2 separate regions of the Homo sapiens genome follow, and region 2 is linked to region 1. The links come from fine-mapping of genetic effects on gene expression. Tissue or cell type: tibial nerve. Region 1 holds a variant in brackets; the other region holds the start of a gene. All regions are shown on one strand. Distances are from middle to middle.

Region 1 (5,324 bases):
AGGCATTGTTAGCCTTGAAACAATCACTCAAGCTGCAGGGGGCTGGGGAAGCTTGCCATGGGAGAGTGAGTGAGGGGGGCAGGTGACTGAGACAGAGCAGTTAGGAAAGGAGGTAGGAAAACCCCAGACTGCCGTGGGCAGAGGGCATTTGCACATGTATGTAACACAGGCACCTACATGTGCACATGCACACAAATGCACACGGATGCACCAACACACATACATTCATGTGCACACACGTCTCAACATGTACACACATCCACAAACCATGCACAGGCAGAACACACACACCACACACATGCACACAGACACACATACATGCTTGTACCCCATGACACATTTGCATGCCTAGACTATGTACATACGTGCACACACGTGTGTACATGCATGTGAGTACATGCACACAAAACACCCATGCGTACCCACGTATACGGGCCCTTACATGCACACCTGCATGCACACATGTACACATGATGCGTGCATGCACAGGCCTGTCTAGAAGTGGGGACTTGGCTGTGTCAGTGCTGCTGAGGGGCTGAGGGAACTGAGCACTGAGGGAGCTGACCACTGCGGAGCGCCCACTGGATTTTTCCACCTGGAGGCTGTCTGTGACTTTGTAGCAGCAGGGGAAGCTGGGATGAGAAGAGCAGCTGGAAAGGAAGTGGGTCCAGGCACTGCAGACCAGCCTTTTGAGAAGTTTGGCTGTGAGAGATGAGAGAGGGCAGAGGTGGGAATGGAGTGTGAAGTTCAGGAAACGCTCATTTTCTGAGCCTCACAGGAAGCAAAGGCCTCTCGAGGGGAGCCCTGTGTGAGGGGCTCTGGCAAGATGCCCCGACACACACATGCATCTTCCACACGCACCCTCTTAAAGGAGGGGGCTGGCTTGGGTGCTGGTGGGAAGAGGCTGGCCTGGAGGGGGAGTCACCGATGTAGGAAAGAGCTGGCTTTGAGGGCCCCTGTGGGAATGGTAGAAGTTGCTGGCTTTAGCAGGAGGAACAAAGGGCAGGGTGGCTGCTGTCACAGGCAGATTGGTGGCTTGGTGGCCAGATGTGAAGCCATGTCAGCCGGATCCCTCCAGTCTTCCGTTTTCTCTGTGCAGCAGGGAGGTTCTCCGCAGACCAAAGGTATGGAGAAAATGGACAGGTGGATCCACCCACAGCTGAGTTTTTCAGCCAAGAGTTCAGGACAGGAGGGCAAGGAACAAGGGAGTGTGTTGGCCGGAGGCTGGCTGCAGGCATGGGTCCTGGGGTCAGGTTGGGTAGGGAAGGAGGTGCAGATAGGAGGGCTGGTGGGCAGGGACTCAGAGAAAGACATTGGAGAGGAGCCAGGAGCGGCTGTGTGGTCGGAGGAGAGAGGAGAGCTGGTGAGGAGTGAGCCAGGCTGGGGGTCACAGGGCCAGGACGTAGCCGTGGGAGGGGCTGCCGGGCCACTGTTGAGTGTTGACTGAAGTAGGGCCTGGGACGAAGAGGAACCAGAGGGGGCTGTTGAGGGCCACTTGGGTGGGTGACAGAGGGAGCTGGGAGAAGGGCGCAAGTTGATGGTGAGAGAAGAGTGTGCACAGAGTTGGGTATCCGCAAGTGTGGAGGGGCTGGCAAGAGGCTGAGCTTGGGGGTCACCTTCCCCAGCTCCCAGGGCCCGGGAGTATGAAGGTAGAGCTGGTTCTCTGAGGTGTTGTCCTCACACAGAGTTGGGGTGGGTGACAGGGTGACTGGCCATCCAGTGGGGACACCACAGCCCTCATGAGGGGCTGTGGAGTCCTGGGGTGGGTGAGAATCTGCCCCATCTCAGGTCAGTTGAGTGGGGCTCTGGGAGAAGCCCTGGGGAGTGGCTGGTGGGACCCAAAGGCCTTCTGGCACCCCGCTGGCTCTGGGCTCCCAGGGCCAACGCTCCCTCCCTACTCATAGTAGCCTGGCCTTTCCAGAGCCCCCTCCAGCAGGGCTCCCCACAGCAGGTCCCCTCAGGCTGCTTGGGCTGGTGGGTCTGCCCTGAGCTGGCCCCTGACTCTCTTACATGTTCCACAGGACGATGGACCGCCGGACTCTTTTCTGCAGCACACGCCTGTGTGCTGTGAGCCCCCCACTCTGCCGTGCTCACACAGACACACCCAGCTGCACACATGAGGCATCCCACATGACACGGGCTGACACAGTCTCATATCCCCACCCCTTCCCACGGCGTGTCCCACGGCCAGACACATGCACACACATCACACCCTCAAACACCCAGCTCAGCCACACACAACTACCCTCCAAACCACCACAGTCTCTGTCACACCCCCACTACCGCTGCCACGCCCTCTGAATCATGCAGGGAAGGGTCTGCCCCTGCCCTGGCACACACAGGCACCCATTCCCTCCCCCTGCTGACATGTGTATGCGTATGCATACACACCACACACACACACATGCACAAGTCATGTGCGAACAGCCCTCCAAAGCCTATGCCACAGACAGCTCTTGCCCCAGCCAGAATCAGCCATAGCAGCTCGCCGTCTGCCCTGTCCATCTGTCCGTCCGTTCCCTGGAGAAGACACAAGGGTATCCATGCTCTGTGGCCAGGTGCCTGCCACCCTCTGGAACTCACAAAAGCTGGCTTTTATTCCTTTCCCATCCTATGGGGACAGGAGCCTTCAGGACTGCTGGCCTGGCCTGGCCCACCCTGCTCCTCCAGGTGCTGGGCAGTCACTCTGCTAAGAGTCCCTCCCTGCCACGCCCTGGCAGGACACAGGCACTTTTCCAATGGGCAAGCCCAGTGGAGGCAGGATGGGAGAGCCCCCTGGGTGCTGCTGGGGCCTTGGGGCAGGAGTGAAGCAGAGGTGATGGGGCTGGGCTGAGCCAGGGAGGAAGGACCCAGCTGCACCTAGGAGACACCTTTGTTCTTCAGGCCTGTGGGGGAAGTTCCGGGTGCCTTTATTTTTTATTCTTTTCTAAGGAAAAAAATGATAAAAATCTCAAAGCTGATTTTTCTTGTTATAGAAAAACTAATATAAAAGCATTATCCCTATCCCTGCAGCCTGTGGCTATGTCTGTGCTTGCTTCCTGCCAGGTGCTGGCCTGGTGCCGGGTGGAGGGGGCAGGATACAAGCCCCTCAGCGCCCTGGCCAGAACAGCAGACATCAGTGGAAAGTCC[A/G]GTTCTCGGGGCCCGCAGAGTAGCTGCACAGGCAGGCATCCTGGGAGAACAGGGCATAGCCTCAGGCGAGGGGGCCTGAGGTGTGTGCAGATGGCCCACTCGGGAATAGTAGGTGAGGCCTGAACCAGCACACGCGGCCTGTGAGCTTGCTGTGCATTCCCAGAGGTGGAGCATCCAAGCAAAGGACCTCATGGGCTTTGGGCCTGTTAAGGGCTCACCTGGAGGGTCATGGGTCACCTTTGCACTGACAGGGTGTTACTAGTGGGTTCTAGAGGAGAGCAGGGGACTGGAGGCAGGCCTGGGAGCTGGAGCAGAGCCGACTTGGGGGCCCAGGTCTCCGCAGACCTTTCCAGGAAAGAGCTAACAGATGCACCCAGTGTGCTTCCCACCCCAGTGGGAGAGCTGCCACCGGGAGGTGGTACCCAGCTCTGAGCTAAGAAGAGCCTCTGATGGGCAGAGCTGCCCCACTGTGGGTTGAGATGCTCGGGAAGTGGTGACCTCCCTGCTGCTGGAGGTGTGTAAGGATGCTCCTGCCAAGTCCACTAAAGAGCAGACTCCTGCCTTGTGCTGGGACAGACTCGATTGCTCAAGGGGTCTTAGAGATGTGACACCTAGAAGGGGCTGCTAAGCTTGTCTGCATGAAGGTGGGATGACCGATTGCATGACATCTGACCTCTCCCAGGTGAGGAGGCCTCAGGGAAGGAAGGATGCTCTCGTGGAGGCCTGCAGCCCCCAGCCCTGCAGTGGGAGGAGGTGTCCTGGGGTCGTGCTCTTCCCAGACTCCTCACACTCCACCCCTGGGAGGAGGGTGGAAGGAGTTCAGGAATGGGGCAGTGGGAGCAGGTGCCCTCTTGACGCTGAGTGACCTGGGGGAGGCCTGTCCCCTCCCTGGGCCTTAGTGTCTTCAAGGGCATCATGGTGCAAGCCCCTCCAGACCCCAGAGCTGTATCTTCTCCCCAAGGCATATCTGGAACAGGCTGTGTTGCCAGGGCCCTTCTGTGTGCCCTGCAGGCCTCCTGGAGGCAGCCTGGGGTGTGAGAATGAGGGAGACCATCTGGAAATGTCCCTGGGCACGCCCCTGTCTAAAGCAAAGCATTCACCACGGGGAGCCAGACTGGGAAGGAAATCTGTTTCTTCTTTGGGGACTGATCTCAAGGCCCTGCCTGCAGAGCAGAGCCTAGACCATGGCAGAGAGGTCTGTCCACACTGGACGATGCCCAGCTGCCCTGTGGTTATTGAGACAGGCTCCTGGGTAGGCTAGCTTATACTCTGTCTTCTGCATGTGACAGCTCAGATAGGACTGTCCTTACTGCAGCCACCAGGACAGGCTTCTCTGCACTCTGGCTGCCCATACAGGCCTGTCCACACACTGGCAGCCTAGACAGACCTGTCTACACTCCAGCCAAATGGACAAGCCTGTTAGATTCTGGCCACCTGCATAGGCCCGCCCATATCCTGGCTGCCCAGACAGGCCCGTCTGCACTCTGGCCGCCTGTATTAATTAGCCCAGTAGCTAATATCATATTTGCTGGCTAGCATAAGGTGTTGAAGCCCACAAGAAGTGAAAAACAAAATACCTTTATTTAGTTAACACTGAATTTGCAAACACAGAAAGGAATAGAAAACCTGACTCCACTTGGACGCACAGGCCTTTGGGGAGTTCTGACACCAGGGCCCCATCGGCAGCTCCACCAGAGCATCCTGGCTGCACCTCCTTCCCGGAGTCCTGGCTTGCCTACCTATTCCATGGGAGGTTGGCCTGGATGTGTCAAGGGGGCCTTTCAGCTCTAGTAAAGACATCTGTCTCCACATCCAAGGAGCTTTGCAAAAGACACGTGGCAGGACAGGAGACTGGACGCACTGTGGCCTGGGGAAGGCAGCGGGGCTTGGCCCTGGGCTGCTCCCCTTGGGGAGAACTGTGTGGCTGAGGCCACCTGTTATGGGGTGGGGCCTGGGCCTGGACACAGCTGCAGGCTGCCCTGTCCTCCAAGAGGAGAGGCGGGGCTTGAAAGATTTGAGTTAGTGTCTTGACCTTAACGTGAGACCTTGGACAAGTGTTTTCAGCTCTCAGAGCCTCAAGTCTGTCATCCAGAAAGTGGGGCCGGATAACCCCTGCCTGCCGCCCTCACCGGGCTCACACCGGGGAAACTGTCACAGCGGGGCCTCAGGCAATGCCGGGCCCATCACTCCCTAGA
Region 2 (5,000 bases), 57 kb after region 1:
TCTCTTTATTCTTGGTGGTTTTACCTTTTAAAAATCCCATTACTAAAATGTTAGTGGAATTCTAGGAAGGAGGGAAAAAAATGGATACACCTGTGATTCACCATGGTTTAACTGGAAGTCTCAAAATGCTCAGTATTTTTAAATGAGACACTCATACACCAAGATAAAATCCTGTGATTTTATCAAGGATAAAAGTTCTTTTTCACAAATAGAACATTCTACCATTTTCCATATTGTTTATGATTTTTGCCTGTTGCATAAGCTTACAAAACAAGAAGTGTTTAGTTTCTGAGTCACAGGCAAAGAGATCAAACAGAGAAATCCCAGATTTCAAAGTAAGATGCTGAGAAAGCCAGTTTCTGCCAAATAATTGTTCTAAGCCTCTACATCCTTCCTTCAATTTATCTGGCAGGTTAATCCAGACTGGAATACATTTGCATTTCCAAACAGATGGGAAAGGCAGCTTTGGCAAAGTAGGCCCCAGATGAGTTTGGCTTTTAATAATAGGCATTCCAATTTGTTTTCACAAAATAATCTTCCTGCAGGAGATATATTTTTGTTGCTGAGGAAAATTAAAGAGAACAGATTGCAGATTTTTTTGTTCCATTGCCAGTTTAATGCAGCAGATAGTTGAGCGTTCTCTCTGTGCCTGACACAGGGCTAGGCTCACGTTTTGGTTAAAAAAAAAAACAAACCCATATGTTGTTCAGCAATATGCAGCTTGGTGGGAGAAAGAGACACCCATATAACCAGCTCTGAAGCCAGGCAGCCAGCAGCGGGGTTACAGTTACTTTCATCAGCTATGGATGATGAGATGGTTCCTGATGTAGATAGGACTTTAACAGGTACATAAGGGAGGGAGGGGGAAGTAACACGTAGTAAGCACCTACTGTATGCTGGGCATTGATGAATCCTTGGTTTATTCCTCATAATAATTCTAGTAGACATATACTGCCCCACATCCCATTTTACAGACAAGGAAACTGAGGCCCAGGGAGGAGAGAGGATATTGCCTAGCCATTTGCTAGCAGAGTCAAAGTTCAGGGTTTCTCTGCCTCCAGAGTCCATGCTTCTTCCTAAATAACTGCTCGAGGCTTAACAGGGTCACTATAGTCGTGGCTCAGTTCTCCAGGAGTGGGTGTTTTCCTTTTAATGGAAGACAAAGTCTAATGCCTGACCCCAGTTGTAGAGATGGCATTAGACATTAGTGAGCTGCGGGAAGAGGACTTTCTGGGAATAGGGACTCTTCCAGGAGCCCATTGACAAAGCCTCTCTCCTTGACCACACTTTAGACAGGCTCCTCTGAGCCCTCTTTTCCACTGGGCTTTGTCCTTGGGCCTTGTCTTCAGCCTGCATAGTCCAGCTGTAGCAAAAGTCCTGCCAAGTCAGTTTAGTGAGGATCCCTCACCCTCCAGCATCCTGATACTGGATCAAATTCCTCATCCCAGATCAATGTCTGATCACCCTGGCCTGCCTTCAACAAGAATCCCCCTACCCTGATGTCTCCTGTAGTCATTTTCTGTCCCCGACCCCCTCCCTCTGCTCGCTGGCTATAAATCTCCAGCCATCTTTGTTGTATTTGTGGTTGGGTCCCATCTCTCTCCCCAGGAGGTCTTGATAACTACCCCCCTACCACAATAGTCCTGAATAGAGCCTTCCTTACCAGTTTAACTAGTGGCAGAATGATTTTGTCCTTAACACCATGGGAATGTCCCTCCCTCTCCTGTAGGAGATGGGGGCTGACAGGGAAAGGGGCTCTTTCCCAGGAAACGCAGCTTCTTCATGGCAGTTACACAGGCTGGAAACCCGGGGCCTGGCTCCCCTTCCTGTCCCCCAGCCCACATCCAATCGGCCCCCACATCCTGAAGCTCCCCCTTTTGAAAACAGTTCTCACGTCTGTCCCTTTTGTCTGCACTGCCGCATCTCCCCCAGGCTGCCCCTTCTCGGCCCCCTGCCTGCCCCAGAATCACCCCCTCTCCACTCAGCACCTGAGGGGTCTCCCAAGCTCCAAACTGGCCTGTCGCTCTTCTGCCCAAAAGCATCTCATGGTTGCCGCAAGCCCACGTGTGGCGATGGGACCTATGGGCCTGCTGGCCTCTGCGCTCCGGCCGCTGCACCTGGCATCTGCTGTCACCTCTGCCTAGAGCACGCTTCCTGGATCTCTTGTCATTTGAGCAGCCTTTAGGAGGTGTTCTCTGGTGCCTGTTTGAACTCACACAAGACCCCCCTCTTTCCCCGCCACAGCTCTTGGCCCTGTGTTTGTCATCATGAGGCACCCTCGCCTCTCCTCACCTGATGGTGCTGGGTTTGTAATCACTCCCCAGCCACATCACTGGTTCTTCCCTCTAGTCCTGCAAAGTGTTTATCACACCCATGTTACAGATGAGAAAACCAGGACCCAGAGAGGCAGAGGGATTCACACACTGTCATGGCACCAGGGAGCTGTGATGCTAGAACGGGACCCCAGATCCCTCAGGCCCACACGCCCCTCCTGGACAGGGGTCCCGAGATGCTCTGGGTGGCTGACCTGTGGTGAGAGGCGCCGGGTCCTCAAGAAGAAGCCGAGGAGGCAGCCCACGATGACAGACAGCACAGACAGGATGAGGAGTCCATTCCGCCTGCACACGTCCCTCCCCCGTGCCAAGATGGCATGCGGCACCATGGTGAGCCTGGCCTGCTGGCAAGGGGCACAGCACCATTCCACGCATGAGAGCCCGGCCGGGGGCACAGGGTCTGGGCTGAGGGCTCTAGCCCCTCAGCAGGCAGGTGGTCGGAGTTGCTAAACACCAGTCGCCAGCCCCACGGCCATGCCCGTGTGGCCGCCTTAGAGGGAAGCCACAATCCTATTACCAGCTGCATCATTAGGAGCTGGGAGCAGATTAGGGCCTGGGAAATTAGAGCAGACCACGTGGTCTAGGAGTTCAGGCCTCAAAGCCAAGCGTTCCTCTTAAACAGTTGAGTGGACCAGGTACTGGAAGGAACAAGAGGAACATTTGCTTGGTTGGTTTGATCTTTACCCCTGCTTCCTTCCAGAAAGAATCAAAAACAAGACAGTAAGATATCAGTTTCCCTCAACATTAATTAAGCATTTACTATGCACCAGGTGCCATTCTAGAAGAGTGTTACATGTACTGGCATATTTAATCCTAACACCAATCCCAAGAAATAAGTACTATTAATATCACCATTTTACAGATAAAGAAACTGAGGTGGGTGGGTGCATGTGCTGCGGGCCAGGCCTGTGCTGGCTGCCTTAGCTATGCCAATCATAGGGAATTGTCCCAAAGATCCCAGGGTTCCCACCTTCATTTTTCAGAAAGGGAGGCTGAGACCCCAGAAGCCAGTCCCTTGGCCATGGTCACAGAGGTCAGAAGTCAGGGCTAGGCCAGTCTGTTTCCACCACATGAACAGGCAGATAGGTTCAAGGGTGCTTGGCAGTATTGTGGGGAATGTAGATTCGAGTCCAGGGGACCTGAGTTCAAAGGTGGGCTGTGCCACTCACCGGGAAATGGGACGTAGATGCTTCAGGGCTGTTTCAAGCCTGGTGCTGGGCACCCTGCAGGCTCTCTGGGCCTATTATTTTTTAAAGATGACAGAGCCCAAGAGACCCACATTCGGGTCCCAGCTCTGCCACTTACTAGCTGTGTGACCTCAGACAAGCATTTCATCTCACTGTGCCTCAGTTTCTCCATCTGTAAAATAGAGATGATAACAGCATCTACTTTGTTAGGGCTGGTACAAAATTCCACCCAGAGGGTATTTGGAAACGCAGTGTGAACCCTGGTGTGCTGAACAGGGGAACGGACTCTTAGGGTCATTATCACACTTAGTGCTTTGGAGAATAGGTGTCTTTTTGCTATTTCTTGTGGCCTGGCCTGCCCTGCCCTGTAAAGCCTGGGGGAATTAACCCTCGTCTATTTCACCAGAGATCTGTAATCTCATTAGGAGCAGTCAGGCAGCAGGCAGCAGGGAATGGGAAGTGCAGTCTGCAGTGAGGGTGGGAGGTAAAGGGTGGGGTGCACACAGGGGCTTCCTCCTCCTGACATAGGAGACAGGGGCAGAGGATGAAGAGGACGGGCCAAGTGGGGCATAGGGGAGAGGTGGGGAGAGGGGACTGGGGCACAGGCTCTGAAGCCATGGACAGAGCTCCTGACTGAGAAGATTCTGATCCCAATTTAATCAGCTCTGTGACCTTGCCGTCTCTGGGTATCAGTCTTGTCCTTTTTAGAATGAGAGAAATGGGCCCAGGTACCTTTGTCAAAGGAACTTCATTTCAACAAACCAATCTTCCAAAGCCCCTGCTCTTTGCAGTAGCTTGGGGTGGGGGGTGGGGGTGAATACAAGTCTGAGAGTTTTTTTTCCTCTGACTTTGACTCTTAAAACCAAAAGTTTCTTGCTACACCTTCAACTCCAACAAATGCCTCATTTTCCAAATAATCAGGTGGTTAGTTACTTCCCAGAAGAGAAAATATGCTAAGTAGGTATTTGGATTTGGGTTTTGATCAACTCCTGGGCTCAAACAATCCTCCCATCTTGGCCTCCTAACGTGTTGGGACTGCAGGCATGAGCCACCACACCCAGCCCAGACCTGGCCTTTAGCTGTGCCATGATATAGGTGAGTCTTGCTTTCTACCACAGCTCCATGACTCCCATTCCCAGGACGTGCCCTATAGCCACCACTGACTCCTCTCTCCCACAGGCTGAGCCTACCACTACCTGCCTACCAGACTACAGCCATTCTTTCCACTGTTCCTACGGTCTTCAACAGGAGAATTTCAACTCACTCTAGCAAATGTTCTTATAGCACCATTTAGTGTGCCACACCCCCTGGGTACTAGAAACACAACAGTGAATCAGACAGTACCTGCCCTGCCTTCAGGAAGCTTATAAGAAAGTGGAGAGACCCCAAGAACGGACTAATTCACACTAAAGTGTAAGTGACTGATAATGAGTTTACTAAGAATATTTGCAAATCAAATCAAGTCTCCTGGGTCAGAACC

Evidence for each region. PIP is the estimated chance that this variant, and not a neighbour inherited with it, causes the effect.
Region 2: it holds the start of SLC1A7, and the variant in region 1 is fine-mapped to the expression of SLC1A7 in tibial nerve (GTEx, PIP 0.98).

Annotation. Positions count from the first base shown.
Region 1 is chr1:53,082,492-53,087,815 of GRCh38, forward strand. PODN (podocan) reads left to right here. Exons shown (of 11, transcript NM_153703.5): 11 at 2,022-3,003. It overlaps SLC1A7 (solute carrier family 1 member 7), which reads right to left. Exons shown (of 11, transcript NM_006671.6): 11 at 4,692-5,324. Among named protein-coding and RNA genes, the nearest start is that of PODN, 23 kb to the left of the region's middle. The variant A/G (reference allele first, on the strand shown) is at 3,130.
Region 2 is chr1:53,139,788-53,144,787 of GRCh38, forward strand. It overlaps SLC1A7 (solute carrier family 1 member 7), which reads right to left and starts at 2,851. Exons shown (of 11, transcript NM_006671.6): 1 at 2,528-2,851. The coding sequence starts at 2,662.